Linked DNA regions of Homo sapiens: all the other regions are linked to region 4. The links come from fine-mapping of genetic effects on gene expression. A gene starts in region 4. Each other region holds a variant in brackets. All regions are shown on one strand. Distances are between the middles of the regions. Region 1 has its middle 9.3 kb from the start of CYTH1. Region 2 overlaps DNAH17 (dynein axonemal heavy chain 17). Region 3 overlaps USP36 (ubiquitin specific peptidase 36). Region 4 holds the start of USP36 (ubiquitin specific peptidase 36). Region 5 overlaps CYTH1 (cytohesin 1). Region 6 overlaps USP36 (ubiquitin specific peptidase 36). Region 7 overlaps USP36 (ubiquitin specific peptidase 36).

Evidence for each region. PIP is the estimated chance that this variant, and not a neighbour inherited with it, causes the effect.
Region 1: its variant is fine-mapped to the expression of USP36 in adrenal gland (GTEx, PIP above 0.99). The same link has a PIP of 0.9 or more in minor salivary gland.
Region 2: its variant is fine-mapped to the expression of USP36 in coronary artery (GTEx, PIP 0.94).
Region 3: its variant is fine-mapped to the expression of USP36 in whole blood (INTERVAL, PIP above 0.99).
Region 5: its variant is fine-mapped to the expression of USP36 in monocytes (Quach 2016, PIP 0.95).
Region 6: its variant is fine-mapped to the expression of USP36 in whole blood (TOPMed, PIP above 0.99).
Region 7: its variant is fine-mapped to the expression of USP36 in whole blood (INTERVAL, PIP above 0.99).

What each region holds. Positions count from the first base shown.
Region 1 is chr17:78,789,563-78,793,637 of GRCh38, forward strand. It overlaps a transcript of USP36 not described here. Among named protein-coding and RNA genes, the nearest start is that of CYTH1, 9.3 kb to the left of the region's middle. RefSeq lists an enhancer at 1,713-1,882. The variant T/C (reference allele first, on the strand shown) is at 2,241.
Region 2 is chr17:78,529,670-78,533,669 of GRCh38, forward strand. DNAH17 (dynein axonemal heavy chain 17) reads right to left here. Exons shown (of 81, transcript NM_173628.4): 20 at 2,813-3,067; 21 at 674-843; 22 at 1-25. It also overlaps the pseudogene RN7SL454P. Among named protein-coding and RNA genes, the nearest start is that of DNAH17, 46 kb to the right of the region's middle. RefSeq lists an enhancer at 2,699-3,898. The variant C/T (reference allele first, on the strand shown) is at 1,915.
Region 3 is chr17:78,806,850-78,810,916 of GRCh38, forward strand. USP36 (ubiquitin specific peptidase 36) reads right to left here. Exons shown (of 21, transcript NM_001385174.1): 14 at 110-787. Among named protein-coding and RNA genes, the nearest start is that of CYTH1, 27 kb to the left of the region's middle. The variant A/G (reference allele first, on the strand shown) is at 2,468.
Region 4 is chr17:78,838,564-78,842,638 of GRCh38, forward strand. USP36 (ubiquitin specific peptidase 36) reads right to left here and starts at 2,251. Exons shown (of 21, transcript NM_001385174.1): 1 at 2,173-2,251; 2 at 24-187. It overlaps LOC124904067 (a long non-coding RNA gene), which reads left to right and starts at 2,551. Exons shown (of 2, transcript XR_007065923.1): 1 at 2,551-4,075. RefSeq lists enhancers at 1-219, 220-734, 2,329-2,518 and silencers at 1,659-2,178, 2,639-2,738.
Region 5 is chr17:78,753,918-78,757,992 of GRCh38, forward strand. All of the region lies in intron 1 of CYTH1 (cytohesin 1), which reads right to left. Among named protein-coding and RNA genes, the nearest start is that of CYTH1, 26 kb to the right of the region's middle. The variant C/CA (reference allele first, on the strand shown) is at 1,993.
Region 6 is chr17:78,817,454-78,821,528 of GRCh38, forward strand. USP36 (ubiquitin specific peptidase 36) reads right to left here. Exons shown (of 21, transcript NM_001385174.1): 8 at 3,538-3,608; 9 at 2,477-2,559; 10 at 1,214-1,325. Among named protein-coding and RNA genes, the nearest start is that of USP36, 21 kb to the right of the region's middle. The variant TA/T (reference allele first, on the strand shown) is at 1,658.
Region 7 is chr17:78,798,055-78,802,115 of GRCh38, forward strand. USP36 (ubiquitin specific peptidase 36) reads right to left here. Exons shown (of 21, transcript NM_001385174.1): 18 at 1,613-1,714; 19 at 854-969; 20 at 346-497. The coding sequence ends at 366. Among named protein-coding and RNA genes, the nearest start is that of CYTH1, 18 kb to the left of the region's middle. The variant C/T (reference allele first, on the strand shown) is at 2,327.

The DNA of each region.
Region 1 (4,075 bases), 49 kb before region 4:
CTGCTCACACAGGCTTGGATTGGGGCATTGTCTTGCTTTGAAAACCCCCAGATTTTATTTTGCTAAAGCTTGCAATTTCTTCTGTGTGTAAATGACACTTAAAATCTGTTTGTAATGGAACTTGATTGTATCCAGCTGTCACCAACTGTTCCCTGTGCCACCCAAAAGACAGCTGGCCACGTGCCACGGTTTGGGCGTTCACTTCAAATAGAGGAGCTAGTGCTCTAGTTCCTGCTAGACTTCACCAAAATGTTTTCACTTACGCAGAAAAACAAAGGGGGTGCGGGTAGGGCTCAGGGAAGGCAATGTGAAGGGGAATTAGTGCAGTGTGGACTGCGGAGCCACTGACTTTGATGGACGGTGGGCTGGCTGTTTTCTGAGCAGGGTCCGAATGCAGTCACAAAGTATGCTGCCTTCAGCAGCTGCTCCAGTTCACTCATTCAACAAATATTTACCGGGTGGCTGGTAAGTGCTAGGCCTTGCCAAGAGAACTGTAGCCACATAAGACAGAAAAATGGCAGAATAATACCTTTTTTTTTTTTTTGAGACGAAGTCTCGCTCTGTCATCCAGGCTGGAGTGCAATAGCGCGATCTCAGCTCACTGCAACCTCGGCTTTCCAGGTTCAAGTGACTCCTCTGCCTCAGCCTCCCTGAATAGCTGGGATTACAGGCACCCACCACCACGCCTGGCTAATTTTTGTATTTTTAGTGGAGATATGGTTTCTTTTTCTTTTTCTTTTTTTTTAAAGACAGAGTCTCACTCTGTCACCCAGGCTGGAGCACAATGGCGCGGTCTCAGCTCACTGCAACCTCCACCTCCTGGGTTCAAGTGATTCTCCTGCCTCAGCCTCCCGAGTAGCTGGGACTACAGGCGTGTGCCACGAGGCCCGGCTAATTTTTTTTTATTTTTAGTAGAGACAGGGTTTCACTATGTTAGCCAGGCTGGTTTTGAACTCCTGACCTTGTGATCTGTCTGCCGTGGCCTCCCAAAGAGCTGGGACTACAGGTACAAGCCACCATGCCTGGCCTTTTTTGGCTGGTCTCGACATCTTGGGCTCAAGCAATCCTCTCATCTCAGCCTCCTGAAGTGCTGGAATTACAAGCATGAGCCACTGCGCCCGGCCAACACATTCATTTTAAAATGGCCTTAAAAAAATCACTGGTTTATGTAAAAGAACTTGAATTTCCTACACACATTTCGCAGCAAGTATTTGCCATGTACTTAGACTGTGTGTTGAAATCTGGTCTCATGATGGTAAGAAGCTACCTAAATACCTAGATCCTGCTTAAGGGAGTGGCAATCTTGTGACCTGTTTCTCACTCAATGTCTAATGGATATTTGGCAGCCATGTCCTGTTGCTTCCTCTAATCAACACCCTCCTAAATGAAGCAGTAAGGGAGAAAACCAATGAAAACACGCATGCAAGACATGTATCGTGAGAGTGACAGCTGACAATCATGATAATTTGAATCTAACCTTTGCATTTTAGAGGAGAAAAGCAAATTCATGATGCTAACTCATGGCAGACCCCTTAGAACACAGGTCTTGATTCCCAATCTGGCCTTCTTTTTTTTTTTTTTTTTTTTTTTAGCTGGAGTTTCGCTGTTGTTGCCCAGGCTGGAATGCAATGGTGCGATCTCGGCTCACCGCAACCTCCACCTCCCGGGTTCAAGCGATTCTCCTGCCTCACCCTCCCAAGTAGCTGGGATTACAGGCATGCACCACCATGCCCGGCTGATTTTGTATTTTTAGTAGAGACGGGGTTTCTCCATGTTGTGTCCTGACCTCAGGTGATCCGCCCCGCCTAGGCCTCCCAAAGTGCTGGGATTACAGGCATGAGCCACCGTGCCCGGCCCTGGCCTTCTTTTTATAGGAAGTCATGATTCAAACCTGACTCCAGCCTGACCCTACTTTAATCCCTTTAAAGCAGCAAAAATATACAGCAGTTTCCCCTTGAGAAAGCAACTTGAAGCAACAGTTTGGTACAGATTCTGCTAAGAACAAGCACATTTTTAATCTCAGGCCCCTCTCACAGGGCAATTTCCTCAATGCCTGGAGTGCTTTCTGAGATCCCAGAACAACGGGCTGGACAGCTGCCCAGAGGCCTCTAGGGGGCTGTGGAAGGCTGAAGAGGCAGGGGGGATCTGGATCACAAAATAGAGGAGACTATTTTCTCTGAACAGGAGTGAGAAACCTTATGTTGGGGAATGATTAGATTCTGGTTTCTTGCCTTAAAAGA[T/C]TGTCCTGGAGGCCAGGCACAGTGGCTCACACCTGTAATCCCAATGCTTTGGGAGGCCAAGGCGAGAAGATTATTTGAGGCCAGGATCCTATACTGAGGGGGCACCTCTTTCAGTGTCTACAGTAGAGATCCTGACAGAGGGTGGATCGGTCGGCTGTTCAGTGGGATGTATTGACTGGATCAGTTGATTCTGGGCTTGATCTAGAGTATGCAGCAAATGCAACAGGCTCACATCTTAGAGGAGCTCTCCAGGGTGCGGAGGTCAACAGTGTCAAATCCTGGGAAGAAGTCGGTGGCAAGAGTGGGAATTAGGTCACTGAGAAGTGATGATGGCAGAAGCTAGACTAAGAACCACAGAGAGTCAACACAGAGCAAAATGAATGTCAACCAAAGGAGAGGGCAGCTGAGAGGGGACACAAGGACACACAGGCTTTTTAGGATGGGAGATGCCTGAACATGTTCCTAAGGGAAGAGTGAGACACGGGAGCAGACAGGGTAATTAATGGAGCAAGGTCCCCAGGGTGGAAGAAGTTGGCCTCAAGGGCACAGGTGGGGTGCCAGCATACACAGAGGGGGCACCTCGTCCAGCATCTCCAGTAGAGGTCCCCACAGAGGATGGGGAACAGCCCCTATACTACAGTTCCTTCCCACTCTCCCACACCAACCACCCAGCCCCTCTGGGAGGCATCAGATCAGAACAGTGGGTCTGCCCAGCAGCAGCCCCGGGGACTATTGGACATGCACATTCTCAGGCCTCATCCCAGACCTGCTGAATCAGAATGCGGGGGAAGGAGCCCGGCAACTGGTGTTTTAAGGAGCCCCTGGCAATTCTGGTGCTCACTTGAGTTTGAGACCAGGGACCAGGATGGCAACTCTCAACTCTGCTGCTCACTATGATCCCCCCGGGAAGGTTTTTTTTGTTGTCGTTGTTTTTGAGACAGAGTCTCACTCTGTCGCCCAGGCTGGAGTGCAGTGGCATGATCTTGGCTCACTGCAACCTCCACCTCCCAGGTTCAAGCAGTTCTCCTGCCTCAGCCTCCCAAGTAGTTGGGATTACAGGCACAGGCCAAGCCCAGCTAATTTTTGTATTTTTAGTAGAGACAGGGTTTCACCATGTTGGTCAGGCTGGTCTCGAACTTCTGACCTCAAGTGATCCGCCCGCCTCAGCCTCCCAAAGTGCTGGGATTACAGGTGTGAGCCACCGCGCCCGCCCCCCTCACCCCCCCAGGAAGGCTTTAAATGCTGATGCCTAAGCCTCACCCATAGATTCTGATTCTACTTCCGTCAGTATCGAATGCCTCTCCCCAGGTGCTCCTGCTGCCCTATGAGCATTGAGAACCCTGAGGTAAGAAGGAGAAGAGAACAGAGGGAGAGGAGCTGGTTTTAGCTTTGGTTTCCCCATGTTGTTTAATTTTGGGGTGGGATGGGAATTCTTGAGGTAGCCTTGGAAGTCACTTACCAAGAGTAGTGGGCACATATGCAATGAGAGAGCAAAATAGTGTGCAGGGATCACTGAAAAGAATGGGAGAGAGAGGAAGGAGTTGCCTGAAGACCAAGGGCAGAAATCCCAAAAGGCAGGCAGAGCCCAACGAAGAAGGGCAGCCAGACAGCCCTGAAAGCCGAATCCATGGCACCCAGATGATCTTCTCCAAGGGTCATCCCCAGTCCAGATATGGAAGGAGCAGGGGGCCAAGCCAAGGCGGGATCTGCACGAAGCAGCAGCAGGGCCACCTCCGGGCAAGAGTGTGACTCCAGGGAGTCAGCTCAGCTGACAAGACACAGAAAGCTGCCCGTCTGCATGTCACGTGACCTGTCCACACACAGTCCTCCTTTAC
Region 2 (4,000 bases), 310 kb before region 4:
CATGAAGGCTTCCAGGTCAGCCAGGCTAAGGGACAAGGGGACCATTTGTGTGGCCCCAGCCCCCCTTAGGCCCACCCTTGATGGTACGGAGCCCCATGAGAGGGGGACGACCGCGGTGAGGTCAACTGGCCATCACTGAAGGCCCCAGGTGGGGAGGGAGCGCCCCTGCCCACCTTGGATCCCTCCAGCTCACTCAGCCCCTGCCCAGACATCACCCCAAGCCTCAGCAACTTAGCTCAAGCCCATCCTCAAGTCCCAAGCTACGGCCACATCCCAGAGGCCTTCACTAGCCTCCCGGATGGAATTCAGCCAGGCAATGCTCTCTCCTGGCACTGTGCCCATCATGGCCCTGATGGCCGCCTATAATCCCACAGCTGCCAGTCTGTTTGTTCAGCGCCAGCCTTCCCTGACAGACTTCTGGTTTCCTCCGCATCTGGCACCCGGACAGAGCAGGTGCTCGGTACACCGGGTTTGGAGAAGGGATAATGTTTGCTCGCAGCCCGGTGACACCTTTCTGCTCACGCTTGGTGGGGTAGTTGGCCTTGAAGCCCAGCCTCCACCCCCTGCTACCCCAGAGGAGGCACCTGACAAATGCCACCCACTCAAGTGGAAGGCCACTCCCTGGTGCTCTGCACATTCCTTGGGCTCCCCGAGTACATGGCTGGGGACCCACCTGTTGGTGACGTGGTTGCTCAGGTGCCGCTTGAACATGAAGCCCCAGCGCCGGATTGTGCTGAGCAGGGCCTGCTTGAAGGGGCGGCAGTCGCACTGCAGCCAGCCGTGGAACACCTTGGTGTTCTCGCACTTGGACACCTCCTCATACAGCTTCTCGTAGGAGTCGATCTGGAAAACACGGCCACCGGCGGCCTGTCATAGCCTGCAAGCCTAGGGGGGGCGTCAGCACAGGGCCTCAGTCCAGGGCCTTCCTGCACTGCACCTGCGCTGCTCACCTGCCGGCCACTCTGGGGCCAGGGTCAGCAAAGGGCAGTACGGGACACATGGGGGCCCTCATTCCAAGTTATTGTTCCTTCCAGCCCCAGAGTCTAGCCCCAGAAGGTGCCAGTCCATCAGAAAGGGGCAGAAGGGGTCATGGCAGCAGGACTTCTGAAGCTGGGTAGGACAGAAGCTTCAAGAGGTGAACCAGGTCACAGGCTCCTAAAGGGCATCCCTAGCTCATCCTTCTACCTGAGGCCTCTGTCACTCCTCCTGCTGCCCCAACCCTGTGCTACAGAATGTACCCCTGGGCATGGGTCACCCTTGCCCACGGGGCCCTCTTTCTCACTGTGCATTGGGAACAGAGCTAGAGGTTTGTGCGTTAACTATGTTTTCTTATTTTATGCATTCTTTCTGCAGCTGTTGGGTAAAGTGTTCTGTAGCTGTCTGTTGGTCCCTGTGATCTAAAGTGCAGTTTAACTCCAATGTTTCTTTGCTGATTTTCTGTCTAGATGATCTGTCTGACGCTGAGAGCAGGGTGTTGAAAACCCTAACTGTTACTGTACTGGGGTCTCTCCCTTTAGATCTACCACTGTTTGCTTTATATATCTGGGTGCTCTGGTGCTGGGCGCATAGATATGTAGAATTGTTAAATCCTCTCGCTGAGTTGATCCTTTTGTCATTACATAGTGACCTTCTTGGTCTCGTTTTACTGTTTGTGACATAAAGTCTGTCTTTTTTTTTTTTTTTTTTTTGAGATGGAGTCTTGCTCTGTCACCAGGCTGGAGTGCAGTGGCGTGATCTTGACTCACTGCAAGCTCCGCCTCCTGGGTTCACACCATTCTCTTGCCTCAGCCTCCCGAGTAGCTGGAACTACAGGCGCCTGCCACCACGCCCAGCTAATTTTTTGTATTTTCAGTACAGATGGGGTTTCACCGTGTTAGCCAGGATGGTCTCGATCTCCTGACCTCACGATCCAAC[C/T]GCCTCGGCCTCCCAAAGTGCTGGTATCACAGGCGTGAGCCACCACGCCCGGCCGACATAAAGTCTGTCTTATCTGATGTAACTATAGTTATTCCTACTTGTTCTTGGTTTCTGTTTGTGTGGAATCTCTTTTTCTATTCTTTTGCATTCAATCTGTCTTTACAGGTGAAGTGAGTTTCTTCTAAGCAGCATATATTGGGGTTACCTTCATCCATTCAGACAATCTATATCTTTTAAGTGGGGAATTGAATCCATTTACATTTGAGGTTATTACACTGACAGGTGTGATTTTCTGTGTTCTTCATGCTCTGACATCTGGGGCCTTGCCCATGGACGACCCCTCCCAGGCCTAGTCAATTTTGAGAGACAACAAACAATTCACCTGGGGGTGTGGTTTCATATGCAAATGAGCCAACCCGGAGCCCACACCTCCGACCATCCCCTTGATGGGGCTCTCACAGGGTTTTACCTTCTGGGCTGCTACCCACTAGCCCTCAGCCCTCATCTCCCTGAGGTCAGGTACCAGACAGCCCCTATAGCCTAGAGCCTGCTGAAATTATTCAAACTTGCCAACCCTAAGCCTGTGACCTCTGCCCATTCCTTCCCTGGAAGCCACAATAAAGGCTCTTTATTTTCCCCACATTTTCCCCAGCTCCCTCTGCCTCCTGACTGACCCTGATGCTACCCCGTGCAGGCCTGTGTGGTGTGCTATGCCCCCTTCTTGGGAACTGTAAGTAACAAACTGCCTTTCTAATGGTGGTCACCTCCTGATGTTTGCCTTGCCCTACCTGGAAACCTGCATCTTAAAACAATTCACCCAAGTTTTAAAGCAAGCCTGGTGATCCTCTCCTGGAAGACTCTGGAGACAAGGAGGCTGGTGGGTGAGGTCTGCACGCACCTGCTCCTGGAACTGAGCCAGGGTGGGCGGTGTCTTGGGGATGGTGTCATCTGTCCAGGTGTCCAAGTCCTCCGCAGTGACTGCACACCCATATATCAGGAAATTCTTCATAAACTCCTGCAGGTTGTCCGTCCAGAGGTAGGAGTACCTCTCAAAGGAATCCTGGTACTCCTCGGCCTCCTTCATGGCATTGATGACCAGGCTGGACACCTCCTCCCTCATCTCTATGAGGTCTGTGTTATCTTCCAGGTCCATCTGAAAGGGGCAGGGGAGAAGCAAAAAGGGGAGGTATGTTGCCTGGTTCATAATTTAGGTGTTGTCCTCTCGGCCTTGAGAAGTGGTTCTCTGTTGGCGAAAGGGCTTCCAATCTCTCATGATGACCTGCTCTTTTTCCAGCCTGGGCCGATCACCCCTCTTTAGGCAACCTGGTGGTCCCCCACTCCTGGGAGGTCACCATACTGATGCCAAACTTAGTGGATAGCACACTACAGCCCAGAACTCCTGGGCTCAAGCGATCCTCCTGCCTCAGCCTCCCAAGTAGCTGGGACCACAGGCACGTGCCACTGTGCCTGGCCCAAGCTCTCACCACGGGAAATAGGAACCTTTGCCGATTTGCAATATTCTGCCATGGGAAGGTATGCCAAGTGTGACGTTTGTCTGGGGAACCCCGAGATGACTCACACATTGATTCATTCATTCGATAGCTCGCTCTCACTGCGTACCACATGCTGGGATAGATACTGGGGCACAGGCAGGGAGTGTACAGCCCAGGAATGGGGTCTGACATTCATCAAAGAATCACAGAAAAAAGCATCTCCACCCTCCCCCTTGCTTCAGGTGAAATGGGGAGCAGGTCAGGGAATGGCCCCGAGGAAATGGCCATTGGTCTGAGAGCTGATGGATGGGTAGACAAGGAGCAAGAGAAGCGGCTTTCCTGGCAACAGCAAAGCACGTGCAAAGGCCCCGTGGTGGGAGGAGGCAGCGTGTTAGGGGAACTAAAGGAAGTCTACTGTCGGTGGCTAGAGCAGAGAGCACGAGAGGCCAGTGCTATACGGATCTTTTTAGTTGCCAGTGACAGAAAACCCAACCCAAACTGGTTAAGCAAAGAGAGAACTCGTTGGCTTATATACAGGACTGGAGAATCCCAAGGTGGTCGGTGTGTGTATTAATCACATTTTTATTGTCTGC
Region 3 (4,067 bases), 32 kb before region 4:
GAGGGAGGCCAAAGCCCCCGGACAATGTTCTCACTCCCTTCAAACCACAACCAAGCAACTCTTGGAGCTCTCCTGATACACAGCAGCGGCGAGACCCCCACACACCCACCTTCTTGGCAGAAAGGGCCAGTTTTTTGGCTGGTGGAGGAGACATGGTGCTTGCAGGCTCAGTGGTGGTGTTGCTCAGGACAGGGGACTTCAGCTTCACCGTCTTAGAATCTGCTCCACTTGGCGGCGTTTTGGAGTGGCCAGCGGTGGAACAGTTCGTTTCCTGAGAATCGCAGAGATGGGCCGCTCCACTCCTGGGGGTCTGGGGGGCCTTGGTGGAGTCGCTGCTGGCCGAGTGCTCTGGGCTGGAGCTGCTGGAGCCCCTCCTGTCGAGGCCAGCGCTCTCGTCGTTCCCCTTCAGCCCATGCCCGTTGGCAGTGGCTGTAGCCAGGAGCTTAGGTGAGGTAGAGAGGACAACATCCCTGCTGTCCCAGGAGCCCTGCCTTTGGCTCCCAGATCTGCTGCTATTCGAGTTGCTGGTCCCAGGCAGCCCCTGAGCAGTTCTGGGGGAAAAGTGCTGTGGAGGAGCTGGCTTCTTCACCTTCTTTCCAGGGTCGTCTAGGATGGTTGGCATGTGTGTGGGTGTCTGGGAGAGTTTGGGGGAAGGGGACCCCGAGGGCAGCTTTGGAGGAATGCAGCCGTTCTGGGACTTCAGGCCCAGGGTGGAGCCATTCCTGGATATGGGCACACCAATCTCTTCAGTGGTGTGCGGCTTCTTCATCGTCCCAGAGTCTTGTCGCTAAGGAGACCAAAGCAGAAAACACAACTGAGGAAGCGAGAAGTCTCAGCTGGGCCACATCTTCTTAAGGCCACAGTGAATCTTAGTAGCAGGCATGGCCTCTGATTAGCATGCTCAAGATAAATTATTTATCTGGACTCTTGGTAAAGACACTGTGGCTTCTCTGAACAATTCTGGTGTTCTGTGACATCCCAAGAACAGGGACCACAGCCGTGTACCACCACACCTGGCTAATTTCTGTATTTTTGACAGAGATGGGGTTTCACCATGTTGGCCAGGCTGGTCTCAAACTTCTGGCCTCGAGCAGTCCACCTGCCTCAGCCTCCAGAAGTGTTGGGATTACAGGTGTGAGCCATAGCACCTGGCCTGAATACATATCTTTATGGCCACCTTTACTATAAAACCAGTACATTTTCATCAAGATTTGGGAAGAGAAAAAAGTATAAAGGAAGAAATTTAGCAAAGTTCCATCACCTAAACATAACCATGCATTAACATTCTAGTGCTTTCTTTTTTCAATCTTTTCTTCCAAATGGTTCTGGCCTGAAGAGTTGCATCCCAGTTTTATCTTAAAGCTATTATCTCAAGCATTTTTATGGGCGATAACTCTCAATAAATATCTTTAAGACAGAGCCTTGCTCTGTTGCCCAGGCTGGAGTGCAGTGGCATGATGATGTCATCATAACTCACTGCAGCCTCAACCTTCTGGGCTCAAGAGATCCTCCCACTTCAGCTGCCCAACTGGCTAGGACTATAGGAGTAGACCACCACACCCGAATAATTATTACTATTTTGTAGAGATGGGGATCTTGCTATGTTGCCCCGGCTAGCCTTGAATTCCTGAGCTCAAGCAATCCTCCCACCCTGGCCTCTCAAAGTGCTGGGATTACAGGCCTGAGCAACTGCACCCTGCCTGTCGGCCTGTCTTTGACATTTTACTATATATACTATGTACTACTGATACACATTAACTGTATGGTTAATTTATATAAGCTATATTGTCTCCAACTGTTGAAATTAAAAATACTGTACAGTATATGTGTGTGTATCCTTTACCCTTCAGAGCACTTATTACAACTGCATAGAAATAACTTATTATTCTGTATTTAGATGCTGAATGTCAGCCTTCCCCTGCTTGACCAAGAGGCTGTACCCGTTATCTCTCTCGTTCCCACTGCAGCCCTCACCAGCAACTCAAGGGTCTGGTATAGAGTCGGTGCTTAAAAAATATTTGTTGAGCTTTTCCTGTACTTAGTACTCCATGCTAATTTTCTGGAAATGGAATTACAAGGCTAATTTTCTGGAAATGAAATTACAGATTTCATTTTCATGAAATCTGATGCAAAATGCCAAACTGCTTTTACTATACTCCAGCCACATCTATTTTTCAAAACATTTGCTAATTTGACACTCGTTTGGGCTATTACCACTTTAACATTCATATTCTCTGCACATGCACTAAAGTGATCTTCATTTGAATGAGATCTTTTGTTTACAAATGTTAACCTTTTGTTGACAATATTTTACAAGGTTTTATTGCTTCATTTGTTTGTAGTAAATTATGTACAAAAATGTAAATCTTAGTCAATTCATAATTCTTCTACATTTTATCCTTCAACTTTAAGCATACAAAGTCTTCTTCCCTTCCCAGAGGTTAAGAATTTACCTCTATTTTCTTCC[A/G]AGTTTTGTTTTGTTCCCTACATTCTATTCTTTGTTAATACTGTTTTCTAAAAGGAATTCATCTTTCCACTGCACCGCAAAGCCGTTTCACTGGCTGAACATTTCCATACACACTAGAACTTGCACCATGTCATTTAGAGTAAAACGGCTCGTCTGCTTGCAGTGTATTTGGAAAATCACGTTTGTAATGAAAATGCTCATGGTCAGTGAAGCGCCCCTGCAGGTGTGCCTGACACAGGGACTCTCCTTGAGCCAATCTCCACCCTCGGGCATCACTCTGCCCATGGAGTTCCTGTGGCAAGTGGGGCTTCCTTTGTTTTTCTGGGGTTTTTTGAGACAGGGTCTCATTCTGTTGTCCAGGCTGGAGCGCAGTGGCACAATGATAGCTCAATGCAGCCTTGTGTTTAAGTGATCCTCCTGCCTCAACCTCCAAACAGCTGGGACAACAGACGTGCACCACCACACCTGGCTAATTTTTGCACTTTTTTTGGAGATGGGGTTTTGGAGATGGGGGTCTTTCTATGTTGCCCAGGCTGCTTCCTTTTTTTGAGATGGAGTCCCGCTCTGTCACCCAGGCTGGAGTGCAGTGGCACAATCTCAGCTCACTGCAACCTCCACCTCCCGGGTTCAAGCGATTCTCCTACCTCGGCCTCTCGAATAGCTGGGATTACAGGCGCACGCCACCATGCCCAGCTAACTTTTGTATTTTTAGTAGAGACAGGGTCTCACCATATTGGCAAGCTGGTCTCAAACTCCTGACCTCAAATGGTCCACCCACCTCAGCCTCCCAAAGTGCCCGGCCCCCCTCTTCTTTTTTTTGTAGACAAGGTCTCACTCTGTCACCTTGCCTGGAATTCACCAGCGTGATCATGGCTCACTGCATACAGCCTCAACCTCCCGGGTTCAAGTGATCCTCCCCCAACAGCTTACTGAATATTCTCTGTGCTGATGGGATCTATGTTGCCCAGGCTACTTTTTAAATTTGTTTTGAGACAGGGTCTTGCTCTGTTGCCCAGGCTGGTGTGGAGTGGTATGATCATGACTCACTCCAGCCTTAATCTCCCTGGCTCAAGTGATCCTCCCACCTCAGCCTCCTGAGTAGCTGGGAATACAGGCACGTGCCATTAAACCTGGCTAGCTTTTGCATTTTTAGTAGAGACAGGGTTTTGCCCAGGTTGGTCTCGAACTCCTGGGATCCACTGATCTTCCCACATCGGCTTCCCAAAGTGTTGGAATTACAGACATGAGTCACAGTCCCAGGCCCAGGCTGCTTCCTAACTTCCTAGTCTGGGCTACAGTGACCACCAACTTTGCAATTATATCATGTATTTTACTGCCACTTCAATTCTAATGCTTCTAATTTCAGCTTCTATTTTCTTTAATGTGAAGAGAAATACAGATGTACGTAAATGACCAAAACCCCTGCAGACTGTGAAAGGCCCTGACTGCCTGTGTGTGGGGTTCAACTCTTCATTCTAAAGGGAGAGGAAGACGATCCATCAAAAACAGTCATCCAGGCCGGGCACGGTGGCTCATGCCTGTATCCCAGGACTCTGGGAGGTCAAGCTGAGCGAATCACTTGAGGTCAGGAGTTCCAGAC
Region 4 (4,075 bases):
ACACAGAAGCCTCGCAGACTCACCTGGGATGTGCAGACTTGGGCCTGCTGTCCTACTGCGGCATGGAACCAGGATCTTAACGGAGGGCTGAGTTTGGTTGGGCAGGTGCTACGCGGAGCTCCTGAATGTAAGCGCTCCTGGACTGTGGCCTGTTCAAACACCGAAGCCGCAGAGCGGGCGTCAGAGCCTGTGGGAGGGACAGGGAGACCATCAGTGGAGGCGACTCTTCCTGTGCCTTCTCTTCAGCTACTTCCCAGGGATGCGGCGCGCACCGGGAACCCTCTACCACGAAAAAGCCGTCCAAGGAGCATCCACGCGTGCACTCAGGATGAGGCGGGTGGACCGTACTACCTCATCACCAGTTGTTGTAATGCACACGATATGAACACCTTAACCTTGACCCCAGACAAGCCCAGAGAAGGAAAACCTCCCCAACACCTGCCAGTCAGCTCCAGTCTAATCTTATTTCCAAAGAGTAAGAGGTAATAAATCCCCAAGTTTTGGATTTAATGAACCAGTAAAACTTCAATAACAACAACAACAAACCTCAGGGAGTAATAGGAGTTGCCAAAATTTTGCTTTGCTAAGTGTGGATTTTCTCTTTCATTACCATCTACGATCACTATGATTACATAAAATTAAGGTTCGTAAAAACAGTTTACAGTGAAAACATTCAAACACACAGATGGAGAACCGCACAGGGAGCACATGAGCCCCCCTTATTCAGCCTCAGTAACTACATCTGACCCATCCTGAGTCACTTCCCATCCCCAGGTAATTCTACAGCAAATCTCAGACCTATGACTTCATCCATAAATAAAAGCATACCAACTCCCGAAAAATGTGTAAGGAAATGATCTCAGAATAAAAGCCATCTACAAAGTGAAGACATCCAGTCGTATTAAAAACTCCCCACAATATCACTGCTTTCGGTTAGGACTCACATCTACCCTGGAAGGTGAGAACTCTGTCATGCACAACCAACGCTTGAGAACCACTTAGGGAGGGGATAAACGAACCTTGGGAGATGTAACCCAGTTTCACTCGAGATAAGTAACTTTGAACTTAACCCACTCCTTAATGTAGATGCAGAGATTTTGAACACAATTTTTCAAGTGGGACAGGTCAATCTCTACTTCACCAATTCCACCTAAAACATTAAGCAATAACCTAAACAACGCTCGCTCGCTCTCTGACGTGTAGGAGCCCGAGACAAGTGTTCCTGTAATCACTAGCAATCCCTCCGACGCACACACCATCCACACTCTACCCAACTCAGGAAGGATGCTCTCTCTTGTCCAAGGACAGCACAGGCCTCATCCACATTTCCACCTGCGCGAACCCCAGCCAGCACCATTTAGGCTCATTCCCGCTCCCTCCTCCTTCTAAAGTCACTTTTCCAGGATGAACTGCAACGGACGCTCGCAGGGTCAACCACGTGCTGGGGAGAGGAGCCCACGGAAGCAGCGGCCTCCCGGGGCCCAGCGCCGCGCTCCAGGGGCCTCCCGGGCGACTCCGCAGCGCCTGCCCCGAGCCCGGCCGCGGACACAGCGACCCGAGCACCTCTCCCCGAGCATGGCTCCGTGGCGAGCGTTACGTAAACGGGGGCGCGCGGAGTCTCCCCTCTCGTGTGTCTGGGTTTGGCGGCCGCCACTCCAGCCCCAGGCCCAGGACCCCCACGCCACCCGCCAGAAGCAGCAGCATCGGAACCGCACCCCGCCCCGGGCTCCATGGCCTCCTCCGCAACCACGAGGAAGGTGCCCGCCCCGGGGCCGCACCCGCCCCGCTGAGCTCTGCGGCCGCACGCGACGCCCTCGCCCTGATTCCGACTTCAACCTCTCCGAAGTTGACCTGAATCCTGCACAGACAGCGGGCCCCGGCGACCCCCATCACCGGCCCGGAGCCCGGGGGACGGCGGAGACCGGCGAGGACAGCCCGGCCCCGGACCCTCCTCGGGAATACCCGGGCTCTGGAGAAGCGAGCTCGCGAGCGGGCGGAGCATCCCGGGTCCTCCTCGGGGACGGCCGAAGCCCTGCGCGGACCCGCGCCCACGTTCTCCCTGAGCGTCCCGGCTGCGCCCGCCAGCCCTTCCCGCGCCCCAGGCCTCGCGGAACCCCCCGCCCCGGTCTCGTCCCCAGGCCTGCGCACCGCCCCGACCCGACCCCAGCCTACCCCGGCCTCTCCGCGGGCGCGCCACAAGCCTACGCAGCCCTGGCGACTCCTTCGGCCCGCGGCCCAGCACGCGCACCATCCGGGCCTCCGGCGCCTCACACACGTGTCACCGCGACGCTTAAAGGCGCCGCACCCAGCGTTCGCGCTGCGCTAACTCCGAAAGGGTTGGGAGGCTTTAAGAGGCGGGGCTAGATTCCGCTAACTCCCTGTCCCCGCCCACCGCCGCTTCCGTGTCGCCTACGTCACCTCCCCATCACGGGACCCCGCCAGCCTACGTGATGACGCAAGTGCGCAGAGCCACAGGCGCTCCCGCCCCTGTGCCGCGGCAGGGTGACGTCTCCGCAGCGCACTAGAGGTGCCGCTACTTCCGGGTCGGCCGAGCACACCTGGCGGCGTGGCGGACGCCTGAAGTGTGACAGTGGCGCGCGCCCCCGCCCCAGAACGGGGACTCGAGGGACTTTGCCCACCCCTGCAACAGCCCTCCCGCGCTGTCTCCCGGGCAGGGAGAAGGCTGGGCTCCCCCACCTGCCCCTGGCCGTCAGGTGGCTGTGGAGAAGCGGAGGCGCGGGCGCTCGGCCTTAACGTCCCGGGCTCTGGGGCCATCCGTGACTCCCACACGCGGAGCACCTGCAGTTTGGGGAGGGAGGGATCTGGGAGCGATCGGCCAAAGCCTGGGGCTGCCGAGGAAATGGCTCTTCGGAATTAGGGATCTGAGAGTGTGAGATTTGACCTTTGTAGGCTGGTGGCGGCTGTGCAATCTCTAGCTCCACCCACTCCCTCCAAAAGCTTTGTCCTCTGACAGCTCTGCGAAGGTTTTAGCTGAGTATTTGTGAGCACGTATTTCTTTTGCAGTATTTTTAAAAATCCTCTTGATCTGAGGCAACTTCGCTGGCTTCCTCCCCATTCCCTTGGGCAGGTTGAGAGTGTTGGTTCCTGGCCTGACCTCAGAAACTCAGAGAAGCACAGGATGGGCATAAACTACTTTATCCAAAAGGCAGAACTTTGCAAACACAGTCGTATCTGCTGTGTCTTTTTTGATGTAAGTAGGAATGATGAGTAGGGTGAAGTCACAGGTAAACAACCCAAAACGAATTTCCATGCCCTCCCCACGGATCCTAAAGCAGGGACTGGAGATGGGGAGAGAGGCTAGATGTACTTGGAACAAAATTCACCTTGTATTTATTACCTGGGCGCTGGTGTTTTTTGAAAAAAGCAAACAAGATAACCATATTAGTCTGATGCTGAGACTATGCCCTATCTGTAAGAATCCTTGGGCTGGGCGCGGTGGCTCACCCTTGTAATCCCAACACTTGGAGGCCAAGGTGGGCGGATCACCTGAGGTCAGGAGTTCGAGACCAGCATGGCCAACATGGTGAAACCCCGTCTCTACTAAACATACAAAAATTAGCTGGGTGTGGTGGTGGGCGCCTGTAATCCCAGCTACTCAGGAGGCTGAGGCACGAGAATCCCTTGAACCTAGGAGGCGGAGGTTGCAGCGAGCTGAGATGTCGCCACTGCACTCCAGCCTGGGCGACAGAGCGAGACTCCGTCTCAAAAGAAAAGAAAAGAAAAGAAAAAAAGGCAGGGCACAGTGGCTCACGCCTGTAATCCTAGCACTTTGGGAGGCCGAGGCAGGCAGATCGCTTGAGGTCAGGAATTCCAGACCAGCCTGGCCAACATGGTGAAAACCTGTCTCTACTAAAAATACAAAAATTAGCTGGGTATGGTGGCGCACGCCTGTAATCCGAGCTACTAGGGAGGCTGAGACAGGAGAATCGCTTGTACCTGGGAGGTGGAGGTTGCAATGAGCTGAGATCGTGCCATTGCACTCCAGCAGCCTGGACAACAGAGCAATACTTGGTCTAAAAAAAAAAAAAAGAAAGAAATGCAACGTAGGTCTCTC
Region 5 (4,075 bases), 85 kb before region 4:
TATAAGAAGTCCCCCACCTCACCCCTTTTTTAAAATGATTCACCACTGAGTGGTAATGACATCATCAATCCAGCGTACTGCAAACACCTGGCTGATGGCATGCTAGGATCCTCTCCTCTAGATACACGTGGAGTAGGGAGGGAGGGTCAAAGTGGCCGTTGTGTGAAGCTATGTCACATTGTGTGTCAGGACCGTCGTGGACAAAGCGACCGGCTACTGAGAAGCAGCGCATCTAGATAAACTCGGAAAGGAAAGGCATGCGTGTGATGCTGACAGAACTTTCCAAGAGCAACTGTCTTCTCTGATCTGCCATGCTTCAAAAACAAACCCTCTTACGCAGATTTGCCCACCCATAAGAATTTATACTTCTAGTTTTTACGTGACTTTCCCTCAATTTTAAGGAAATAGAAAATTGTGGGGTTTTTTGTTTTCTTTTTTTTTTCTGAGACAGGGTCTCACTGTGTTGCCCAGGCTGGAGTGCAGTGGTGCAATCTTGGCTCACTGCAGCCTCAACCTCCCTGGTTTAAGCAATCCTCCCACCTTAGCCTCCCAAGTAGCTGGGACCACAGGTGTGCACCAACGTGCCAAACTAATTTTTTTCTTTTTTATTTGTAGAGACAGAGTGTCACTATGTTGCCCAGGCTGGTCTCAAATTCCTGGGCTCAAGCAATCCTCCTACCTCAACCTCAAAAAATGCTACAATTACAGGTGTGAGCCATCATGCCCAGCCCAAAATTGTGATTTTTAGTACAAGAATATAAAATAAATTTTTGCATTTAGTTTGTGACTGAAGTTTTATGTCACTTTTTTAAGGTAAATCCATTTTTAAATTTATGCAAAATAACATACTTATAAAAATCTTTAACTGCTTTGCATATTATACTTATGTTAAATAAAAGCTCTTCTAAGCCTTATTTTGAAACTAGTTACATATCATTTGTACATTCCATTCCTAACTAACCTCTATTATATTTTATATATAATAAAACATTTTTAAGGGGAAAATGGTCTGTCACACAATCCAGCCATTCCATGTGTAGGTATAACACAAGAGAAGTGAAAACATATCCACATAATGACTCATACATGAATGTTCCCAGCAGTTTTATACACAATAGCCCAAATCTGGAAACAACTCATATGTTCATCAACAGGTGAAGAGACCAAAAACGTGGTGCAGCCATACAGTGGAACATTACTCAGCAATGAAAAGGAACAACTGATACCCCCAACAATGAATCTCAAACATAATATTATTTATTTATTTATTTGTTTTGAGACAGAGTCTAGCTCTGTCACCCAGGCTGGAGTGCAATAGCGCAATCTCAGCTCACTGCAGCCTCCGCCTCCCGGGTTCAAGCAATTCTCCTGCCTCCACCTCCAGAGTAGCTTTCTGTATTTTTAGCAGAGACAGCCATGTTGGCCAGGCTGGTCTCGAACTCCTGATCTCAAGTGATCCGCTCGCCTCGGCCTCCCAAGTGCTGGGATTACAGGCGTGAGCCACCACGCCCAGCCTCAAACACATCATTCTGAGTAAAAGCCAGACATGTATGATGTTGGCAGTGGGTTTATTTAAAAAAAAAAAAAAGGAAAGAAAGCCAGACACAGAATATACATTGTAACATTGTATGATTTCACTTACATAAAATTCTAGGAAATACAAACTCATCTGTAGTCACAAAAACCAGATCAGTGGTTGCCTGGGGCCGGGGTAGAGGGAGGAATGGACAGCAAAAGGACATGAAGCGGCGGCCAGGCTCGGTGGCAGCACTTTGGGAGGCTGAGGCAGGGGGACTGCTTAAGCCCAGAAGCTCAAGACCAGTCTGGGCAACATAAATAAACAATTAGCTGGGCATGGTGGTGCAAGCCTGTAGTCCCAGCTACTTGGGAGGCTGAGGTGGAAGGACTGCTTGAGCCCAAGAGGTTGAGGTTGCAGTGAGCTGTGTTCATGCCACCACACTCCAGCCTGGGAGAAAGAGCAAGACACTGCCT[C/CA]AAAAAAAAAACAAAACAAAAAAAGAAAAACAAAACAAAAAGGGCCATGAAGCATCTTTTTCAGGTCAAGAAAATATTGTGCTTTATTGTGATAGTGGTTTCACTGGTGTACAAAACTGCTGAATATATCCCATCAAATTGTACACTATTTATTTATTTATTTATTTTTATTTTTTTTTTTTTTGAGACAGAGTCTTGCTGTGTCACCTAGGCTGGAGTGCAGCAGCGTGATCTCAGCTCACTGCAACCGTCACACCCTGGGTTCAAGCGATTCTTGTGCCACGGCCACTCTAGTAGCTGGGATTACAGGCGCCCACCACCACACCCAGCTAATTTTTGTATTTTTAGTAGAGACAGGGTTTCACCATGTTGGCCAGGCTGGTCTTGAACACCTGATCTCAAGTGATCCACTCGCCTCGGCCTCTCGAAGTGCTGGGATTACAGGCATGAGCCACCGCGCCCAGCCAAACTGTACACTTTAAATGGATACCATTTATTCCATGTAAATTATACCTCAATAATTTTTTTAAAACAAGGAGAAGGAACCTGAAAAGTCTGCAGCAAATAGACAAATGGAAATTAATGTGCTCATCATCACCAATTAAAGGTGCTGAAAATGTCAGTTAGTACCCCTAGTTTGCTAATGAGGCTATTTGAAGTCCTTCAGAGAACTGAGTGACACAGTGAGACCCCATCTAAAAAACAAAAAAGAATTTAAAAATCTGTCTATTCAGAACTAAATCATTATTTGAGTGGACTCATCTTCAAAAGTCTTTAACACATTTTGGGGACACAGATGTCTATTAGAAAATACCACTGGGGTGAGAGGATCACTTGAGCCGAGGAAGTCAAGGCTGCAGTGAGCTATGATCATGCCACTGCACTCCAGCCTCGGTGACAGAGCAAGATCTCATTTAAAAAAAAAAAAGCCTTCATAATCACCAGGAGACACAAGGATGCTGAGAGGTTAGGAACACAAAGTTCAACCACTGGCCTATATTCCAATAAACATGGCAAAAATTAGACTAAGATTATTCACAAGGCGGAATTTCAAGGTTTGAATTTTTTTCTTTTTTTTCTTTTTTTTTTTTTTTTTTGAGATGGAGTCTCGCTCTGTCGCCCAGGCTTCCTGGGTTCACGCCATTCTCCTGCCTCAGCCTCCTGAGTAGATGGGACTACAGACGCCCGCCACCATACCCAGCTAATTTTTTCATACTTTTAGTAGAGACAAGGTTTCACTGTGTTAGCCAGGATGGTTTTGATCTCCTGACCTCGTGATCCACCTGCCTTGGCCTCCCAAAGTGCTGGGATTACAGGCGTGAGCCACCATGCCCGGACTCAAGGTTTGAATTTTCAACATAACTTAAGAAACCCTCATCCTTTGGGGGGATGACCGTGAGTGCAGTTTAAAAAAAAGAAAAGAAACCCTCCTATGAATTAAACAGGTCTTGGTTAGAGGTCAAAGTTCTCCTTCTAATTAGAATGTAAGGTACCTGAGAACTCTATTCATGTCTAAATTGCAAGGCCCATAGAGTGTCCAGCTCATTATAGGTGTTCAATAAGTATCTGTTGAATAGATGAATAAAAAACGACCTGGGAAAGAAGCTGCTATAATTTTCCCATTCTAATACATGTAAACACTAGCCGAGGTTCTTAGAACAAAGTTCATTCTGCCAATGCTGAGAGAGGCAGGAAAAAATTTTAATTATATCAGCAACCCAAAAGATTAAAAAAATATTCAGCCGGGTGCAGTAGCTCATGCCTGAATCTCAGCACTTTGGGAGGCTGAGGCGGGCAGACTGCCTGAGGTCAGGAGTTTAAGACCAGTCCGGCCAACATGGTGAAACCCCTTCTCTACTAAAAATACAAAAAAAATTAGCCAGGCATGGCTACTTGGGAGGCTGAGGCAGGGGAATTGCTTGAACCAGGGAGGTGGAGGTTGCAGTGAGCCAAGATCGCACCACTGCACTCCAGCATGGGTGACAGAGCAAGACTCTGCCTCAAAAAAAAAAATTCAAAAAAAAGTTTAAAAAAATAGTAATTCAATGTCAGGAAGGATAAATTAACAAGTATCATCATATAC
Region 6 (4,075 bases), 21 kb before region 4:
TTTATGAGATACAGACATCTACTGGGCACGGTGGCTCATGCCTGTTATCCCAGCACTTTAGGAGGCTGAGGCAGGCGGATCACCTGAGCTCAGGAGTTCGAGACCAGCCTGGCCACCATGGCAAAACCCCATCTCTACTAAAAATACAAAAATTAGCCAGGTGTGGTGGTGGGCGCCTTAATCCCAACTACTCTGGAGGCTGATGCAGGAGAATCACTTGAACCCAGAAGGTGGAGACAGCGCCACTGCAATCCAGCCTGGGCATCAGAGCAAGACTCTGTCTCAAAAAAAAAAAAAAGAGAAAAAAGAAAAAAGAAACACATCTTCTATGAAAATGCCACTATAGGCCAGGTATGGTGGCTCACACCTGTAATCCCAGCACTGTGAGAGGTCAAGGCATGCAGGTCACTTGAGCCCAGGAGTTTGAGACCACCCTGGGCAACACAGCAAGATGCTGTCTCTACAAAAAACTTTTTAAAAAATTAACCAGGCATGGTGGCATGTGCCCACAGTCCCAGCTACTCAGGAGGCTAAGGCAGGGGGATCGCTTGAGCTTGGGAGGTCAAGACTGTAGTGAGCGCTGATTATGCCACTGCACTCCAGCCCAGGTGACAGAGTGAGACCCTGTCTTAAAACAAAATGAAATTTAAACAATAAAATACCATCGTGTCAAAAGTAGTTTTTCTAAACTCCATATTTCATAAAAAGCCAGAGCATGCAACGGCACCTGTTCTAGACATCAAAAGGACATGGACAATGCAAGTCCCACCGCCCAGTGCTCATCACACTCATCTGGAGAACCCTGAAAGTCCCTGCCAGGACCAGCCCAAGCACAACCAGAAGCTGCGGTAAATCCATTAAGACAGTGGCCCTGGAACTTGACTGTGTATAACAAGCATTCAGGGATTTTGCAAAAATGCAGATTCCTGGGCCCTGTCCTCCAGAGATTCAAATTCACTGGCACTGGGATAAACCCAGAAACGTCTATTTTTAAAAGGCGTCCCAGGTTGCTTCCCCTCTCTGTGACTGTCTTCCCGTCCTGGACAAGGGCGAAACTACAGTCCCTACTTCACAATATGTGTAGAACCTTTAGAACAGGGACAGGTACTGTGTAAACAGCAGCTATCAAACTCGTGGCTATCACTTTCTTCGTGTTATTCTGATGCCGACTGTGGCCCACGGAGCTGCCTGGGATGGTGTCACGAGCGCTCACCTTGGTGATCTTCCCCCCGCTGAAGTTGGCAAAGCGCTTGAGGGAAAGGGTTAAGACGTTGGATGTTCTGTGGATGGTGAAGCGCTTGCTGGCTGGAACCTTCTTCTTGCATCTATGAAGAAGGTGATGAGAAAGATTAATGAATGATTGATTCGTGCTCTGAAAAATGTTGTCTTAACGCTAAGTTAATAACAGCAACAACTGCTCTGTAATAGTGGAATCTTCATCAATGAGATTTCGACCTTCTGCTCCTCTCAAAATCACATTAAGCATGCCTCAAGTAAAGGAAAGCTACCACAGGGAAATAAGACTACAGAAAGTGGGAAGATTCTAAAGCAAAAAAATAAAAGTACTGTACCCACCAGGAAACTAAATAAAATACAGGAAAAAGTTGCTTTGGGCCAACACAGGAAAGAGCAAATTAAAGCAGATGTGGCTGAGTGA[TA/T]AAACGGGCAGGCAGGAAGTCAACGTAAGCAAAGCTAGAAGATGCGCAAACACAGGGAGAGAAAACAGAAGCAGAGGCGCGCAGCTTGGAGAGCTGCAGGAAACAGACCTAAAGAAGAGTAAAGCAGAATTAAGAATATATTCTTTAGTGCCTACAGCTTTACAAGGACCTAGATATAAAGATATTCAGCCGGCTGTAGTAGTGTGATCCCAGCACTTTGGGAGGCAAGGCAGGAAGATCACCTGAGTTCAGGAGTTCGAGACCAGCCTGGCCAACAAGGTGAAACCCTGTCACTACTAAAAATGCAACAAATGACAAAGTAAGAGTTCTATCTGCAGAAACGGAAAAATGTCCAAAACCAGTTAAGTAAAAAATGAAAGCCAAAGAAAACACTCCTTAAGAGGCAAGAGAGCAGCTGGTTGGGCACAGTCCCTGGGGCGGCCGCCCGGTGCCAGCCAGTGTGAACTGATGTGAGCTCGTGCTCTGCCACGTCCTCTTGGTGTGGCCCCATGGCTGGTCACTTCACTTCTCTGTGCCTCAGTTTCACCATCCCTAGCAATGGGAAACCACAGCCCCTACTGCACAATATATGCGGCATCTTTAGAACAGGTATGGTGTAAACTGTAGCTATAAAAATCATAGCTATTGCTTCATTCGTGTTATTTAGAAGTTTGAGTTTTTAGGACACACATAGGTTCCTCAAGAAATGCGAGCAGCGGTCACCGCTAAGGAAGAGTGGGTGGGCACAACACTGTCAGGTGAGGGGACTTATTTCCCGTCTGGTATCAGTCTTCTGCCACAAGCAACGTGAAACTTACTTAGCACACATGTAGGCATTCTCTCCACTCAGGACATCTGCTTTCACAAAAAGTTCCAGAGCACGCACAATATTCGCAGCTTGCTGAGGAGGACAAAAACAGGGAGTAAAATACACAGCAGAGGAAAAAGGCTGATTCAAGAAATGCCAAATTTAAGGTCTTTTTTAGGCTGAGGCAGCAAATCACAGAACTTAGACTCGCATAAAAATTTGCCCACTAGCTGCCAGATTGGGACTCCTTCTCCAGAGACAAGAAATGAAAGCAGCCAGGAACAGCGGCTCACGCCTATAATCCCAGCACCTTGGGAGGCCGGGGCAGGAGGATCATTGAGGCCAGGAGTTTGAGACAAGCCTGGGCAACATAGCAAGACCCCTGTCTCTGCAAAGAAATTTAAAAAATTAGCCAGGCGTGGTGGTGCATGCCTGTAGTACCAGCTGTGTGGGAGGATCACTTAAGCCTAGAGGTCAACACTACAGTGAGCTATGATTGCGCCACTGCACTCCTGCCTGGGCCACAGAGCAAGACCCTGTCCCTCAAGCCCCTATAAAAAAAAAGCAAAGCAAAGAAATGACAGCTGCAGGTCTGCCATGAATCAGTCACTTTTATCAGGATGATCTTGTAGCTGGACCTGCTCTGGAGCTTGGGTTGGCCCAGCAAAGGCAGACCACCCTCCCGCACCCTGTAGCTGCAGCAGGATGTGCGACAAAGCCAAGGCTGCTCTCCCAGGTGAGGCCCACAGAGCCACCAAGCTCCAAAGGCTGCACGCCGCCCAGAGCACACAACAGACTCTCCTCAAGCCCTGGGGACAGCGTTGTTCCTGTTCATGCTTCAGGACACAAAACCCAATTTTACCATTTTTTTCTTTAAATAAAAGGATACGCTTAGGAAAAACTCTAGAAAAAAACAGGTAAAGACAATGGTCTGTACTGCAAGGCGGCAGGGAGCAAAGGAGTTTTCTCCCTATCTATTTTGATCTGATGCCTTTACTGTTCTGCGGGTTCTGTTTCACCCTCTGGCCTCGCTCTCCTACTGCAAAAGTGAAGGGCAGGACAGATCTGTACCCGGATCTCCAGCGCGACGTCCAAGTAGGGGTCGTAGGTGTCCGAGACGCTCTTGCACACGGAGCACTTCACTGCAACAGAACAGAGGCAGTGGAGCAGGTGGGGCCTGGCAGAGGCACTCCCAGCTCCCAAGACCGAGACCCAGCAGGGAGGCAGACTCTCAGCAGGGCTTTGGCCAAAGATGAGATTCCCACTAGCCCCTGAAGCATCCTGGTGTCCGAACAGAGAGCTCTCTTTCACCACTGAAGTTCACAAAGATGGATGTCAATATCTTTGCACTCACAGGGCCCTCCCTGCCTGGACTGCTGACCACCACGTGCGGTACTCTCCTGCTGAGGGAGAGCAGAGGGAAGAGCTGCCTCCTCCCTGCACGCGTGCACGGCACTTCCTAATGAGAATATATATATATATATATATATATATATATATATTTTTTTTTTTTTTTTTTTTTTTTTGAGATAGAGTCTTGCTCTGTCACTCAGGCTGGAGTGCAGTGGTGGGATCTTGGCTCACTGCAACCTCCACCTCTTGGGTTCAA
Region 7 (4,061 bases), 41 kb before region 4:
CATCCCACACACACCCCACACATGCCCTTCTCCAAGTGACCAGAACACATGCCACAGATGCCAGGTGTACACACCCCACACCCAACACACACTACACACACCCCCTTATACACACGCATCCCACACACACCCCCTTATACACACGCATCCCACACACACCCTTCTCCAAGTGACTAGGACACACACCACAGACGCGCCCACACCACACACACCACCCAACACACATGTGCCAGATACACAGCCCACATACATCATACACACACGCCACACCCCACCACACCCCTACACACATACACGGCACACACACCCCCACCTCACCCTTACACCCACCCCCTCGGAACCGACCTCCTTCCACAGGGGCACAGTCAGCGGCGATAGCTGAGGCTGGCAGCCTTTGCTGGGTGAGTCACAGACCAGAAGTTCCGTCGAGTCTGAAGTTTCTGGAAGGCGTTGAAGTTTCTCCTCTTCTCTCTCTTAAATTTTTTAATTTTCTTTTCCTAGACCAAGAATCACAGGCATCACAGTTCCCAAAAACGGCTCTTTCCTGGCCCACGGGGCTCCATGCTGCATGCAGGTCCTGCACACAGGCCGGGCTCTCATGAGCTCTCTGGAGACCCACTCTTCACAATGACCCCTGTGCACGGCGACCTGCAGTCCCCCTATTGACAAAGGGGCGGAAGCTGCGAGGATGCATGCCCTGTCCATGGCCACACGCCCGGACAGGCCTGGGCAGCCTGGCTCTTCTCATGCTCGGCCGCTTCATGCCACTGCCGCCACCTCCAACTGCCCCGGCTCTGAGCTGAGCCACGCCGCCCTGCTCCCTCAAGCCTGTGGTCAGCATCACACATCATACCTTCCCTCGGTCAAACTCTTCGTCCCAGTCATCAACCACGGTCTCAGTCCGGGCCTGTCTGCTGTCTTCAATAGCATCCTGACTGACCGCCGACATCTTGCCATCCCAGGTCAGAACTACCAGGCAGACACGGGGGTCAGCACGAGTGCAGGTTCCCAGGTCCCCTGTGGCTTCACTTCAAGAGTGTCATTTACCAACTAGTCTACTCATAATTAGTCAACAATTTTGAGTGCCACCTTGTGGTGAAGAGAAGGACAAGAGGAGGACGGCTCGACGCCCATGTGTGGTCGGTCAGCATGGAACCCCCAGCGATGCCCTCTTAGCTAAACCCTAAACCACAGCCAAAGAGTTCAGTTCTTTCTAAACCCATGCCCTCGTCTGAGGAACAAAGATGTCATGTTTGGTCTCGAAGTCTGAATAAAAACATGCTCTGAGCAAGAAGTGACATTACCCAGGTTGGAAGAGCTTCGTCACTCTGCCCCTTCCCTACCCAAGACACAGCATGTGTGGGGCTCCTCACCCTGCCCCAACCCTCAGAAGCAGCTGTTCTGGATCCTGCCACGGACAGAAGCCACCTTCGTGCCACGGCTGAGGGTTTAAAGAGGACTCCAGCCAGTGTTGAGATTCCTCTTCCCATTCTCAAAGCCGAGCGATGCCCGCCCGCCACACTCACAGTGCACCAGGATCCATTCCACACCCTTCCCTCCTACAAAACCAACCAATGAAAGGCAAACAGAAGTCCTGTCTCCAAATCAGTACCTTTTCTCCCGTAAGCTTTATCAGATGAGTATTTGAGCAGTTCCTGGACCACATCAGACTCCCGCTCTCCATTCCAAGACACAGGAGGGGCCTGGCTCAGCCCTGCAATCGGAGCAGCCAAGAAACATTTACAGACGTTTAAAATAACCCACTGGGGAAGCAATCGCACACCTTAAATTATAAAACAACTTACAGTAAGTGGATGCTTGCCTTTTTTTTTTTTTTTTTTTTTTTTTTTTAAAGACAGGGTCTCACTATGTTTCCTAGGTTGGTCTCAAACTCCTTGGGACTCCCACTGGCCTCCCAAGGTGCTGGGATTACAGGCATGAGCCATGGCGCCCAGCCTAAATGCTTATTTACTAATGCTTACATGCTTAATTTACTAATGACCTGACACAATAGAGAAGGCTGTTGTCCAAGTCAATTCATGAGAAAGAAAACATGGAAAATAACAAAAAGCTAAAAACCAAAAAAAAAAAAACCCTCCAAAACCCCTTTAACCAGTAGTGTTAAGTCCTCAGTCTGACAGAAGGAGAGAAGAGAACTAGATCTAAATGGAATCCACCTCACCTACGGGAGAGGCCCATGCCCCAGGACCAGCCTGACACCTGGATGGCCACAGGGGTGGAGGGAACGGCCAAGCTTGGCTGCTGCCATCAGGGGCCCGACCTCCTAAGCCCTGTCCAGGGGGAACCTGGTCCCCATCAGCAACAC[C/T]GCACAGGTCCACCCAGCACCTCGGGACCAGGACAGCACTCACCACCCTCATCGGGTTCTAGAAACCCTTTCTGAACTCGTCCTCTGCCCAGCTAGCCACATAGCCCCTGGAATATACTCACCTCCCTTCACACAAATCTGACCTCATTTCTCCCTGCCTCCAATTCCTCAGTGAGCTCCAGGCTAAGTGTCCCCTGCCCCCACACAGTGGCTTCCATGGTTCCCATCTCATCCACACAGCCCAGGGACCCGGCCATGCAGAGCAGCCTGCCTGCTCCCAACGTGCTGCGCCTCCTGCCCTTGGGTCTGGTGCCCTGCCCATTTAGCCACTCTCCTCAGGTGCACAGGACTGCAAGAGCCCATGCGGCCCCCAGCGCCTCCTTGCTGAGCATGAGCCCTTACTGTGTGGTTCTGGCTCTGCCAGGGAGCCCCGAGGGCCCAGGGCGCACTTCAGTAGACACAACCAGCACCTGGCATGGACCCTGGCGCACCGCAAGTGCTCAAGTGATGTCCCTTGCACTAACAAGCCAACTCCACTTCGCTCCGAGGGTGGCACGGAGCACAGCTCTGGTGCCATGTTAGGGCAGTATTTTTTTTTTTTTTTTTTTTTTTTTGAGACGGAGTCTCACTCTGTCACCCAGGCTGGAGTGCAGTGGCGCAATCTCGGCTCACTGCAAGCTCCGCCTCCTGGGTTCACACCATTCTCCTGCCTCAGCCTCCCGAGTAGCTGGGACTAGAGGCGCCCGCCACCATGCCTGGCTAACTTTTTGTATTTTTAGTAGAGACGGGGTTTCACCGTGTCAGCCAGGATGGTCTCGATCTCCTAACCTTGTGATCCGCCCGCCTCGGCCTCCCAAAGTGTTGGGATTACAGGCGTGAGCCACCACCCCCGGCCAGGGCAGTACTTCTGAGAGCATGCTGGCCAGCAAACTCAGTCGGCACTAGCTAGCACCCACGTTTTGCTATTTATTTCATACCATTTCATTTTTAACGATAAATTCCTTTCTTAAGAGTTGGATAAATACAAATCAGTCTCTAAGGTCCTGCTGACCCCCAGATGCACTGCCATAATCAGACCTTCCAGACTGCAGAGGAGGCCTCACTCAAGCTCGGCCCCCTATACCAAGCAGCCAGGACTTTCTCTCCCCTTCACTTAACAAATGTGTTCTGTGGCGGGTGCCTGCCAAGGCATGCCCCAGCCAGCCCTAAAGAAAACAAAACACCCTCCGATTGAGGGGTGGTGCCCAAGGACAGCCACAGCACACAGGTCCCCAACAGCAAGCAAACCGTGCTATGTTCTGAATGGCCCAGCTACATAGAGGGAGAGGAGGATTCACTTTTGAACCCAACTCTTCTAAATTCAACCATCACAGAAAAAAACTCAGGCTGGGAGTTCAGGGAGTCATTCCGTGAGAAGCTGTAGACAGAACAGCTTTGAATCGGAAGACCCACTGGCATTCACAGAATGTTTTAAAGTTCATGTGCACTGTAACCTCTCTCATGGGGCTGTTTCAGTCAAATGCTGTGACACATGAGGAAGCTTCAACCCCATCACCCAAGGGAGCAGACTCGGGGGTGGGGGGTGAAGGTTGGTAGGGTCCCAGGGCCCTCCACATCTTCTCCCAGACCCTCCCAAGCTCAGATGCAGTAGACGCTGCTCTCAGCCTGTGCACTCCCCAATACCCCCTCACCCGGTGCACACCCACGCGGTCCCCCACCCCCTTGCCCGGTGCAC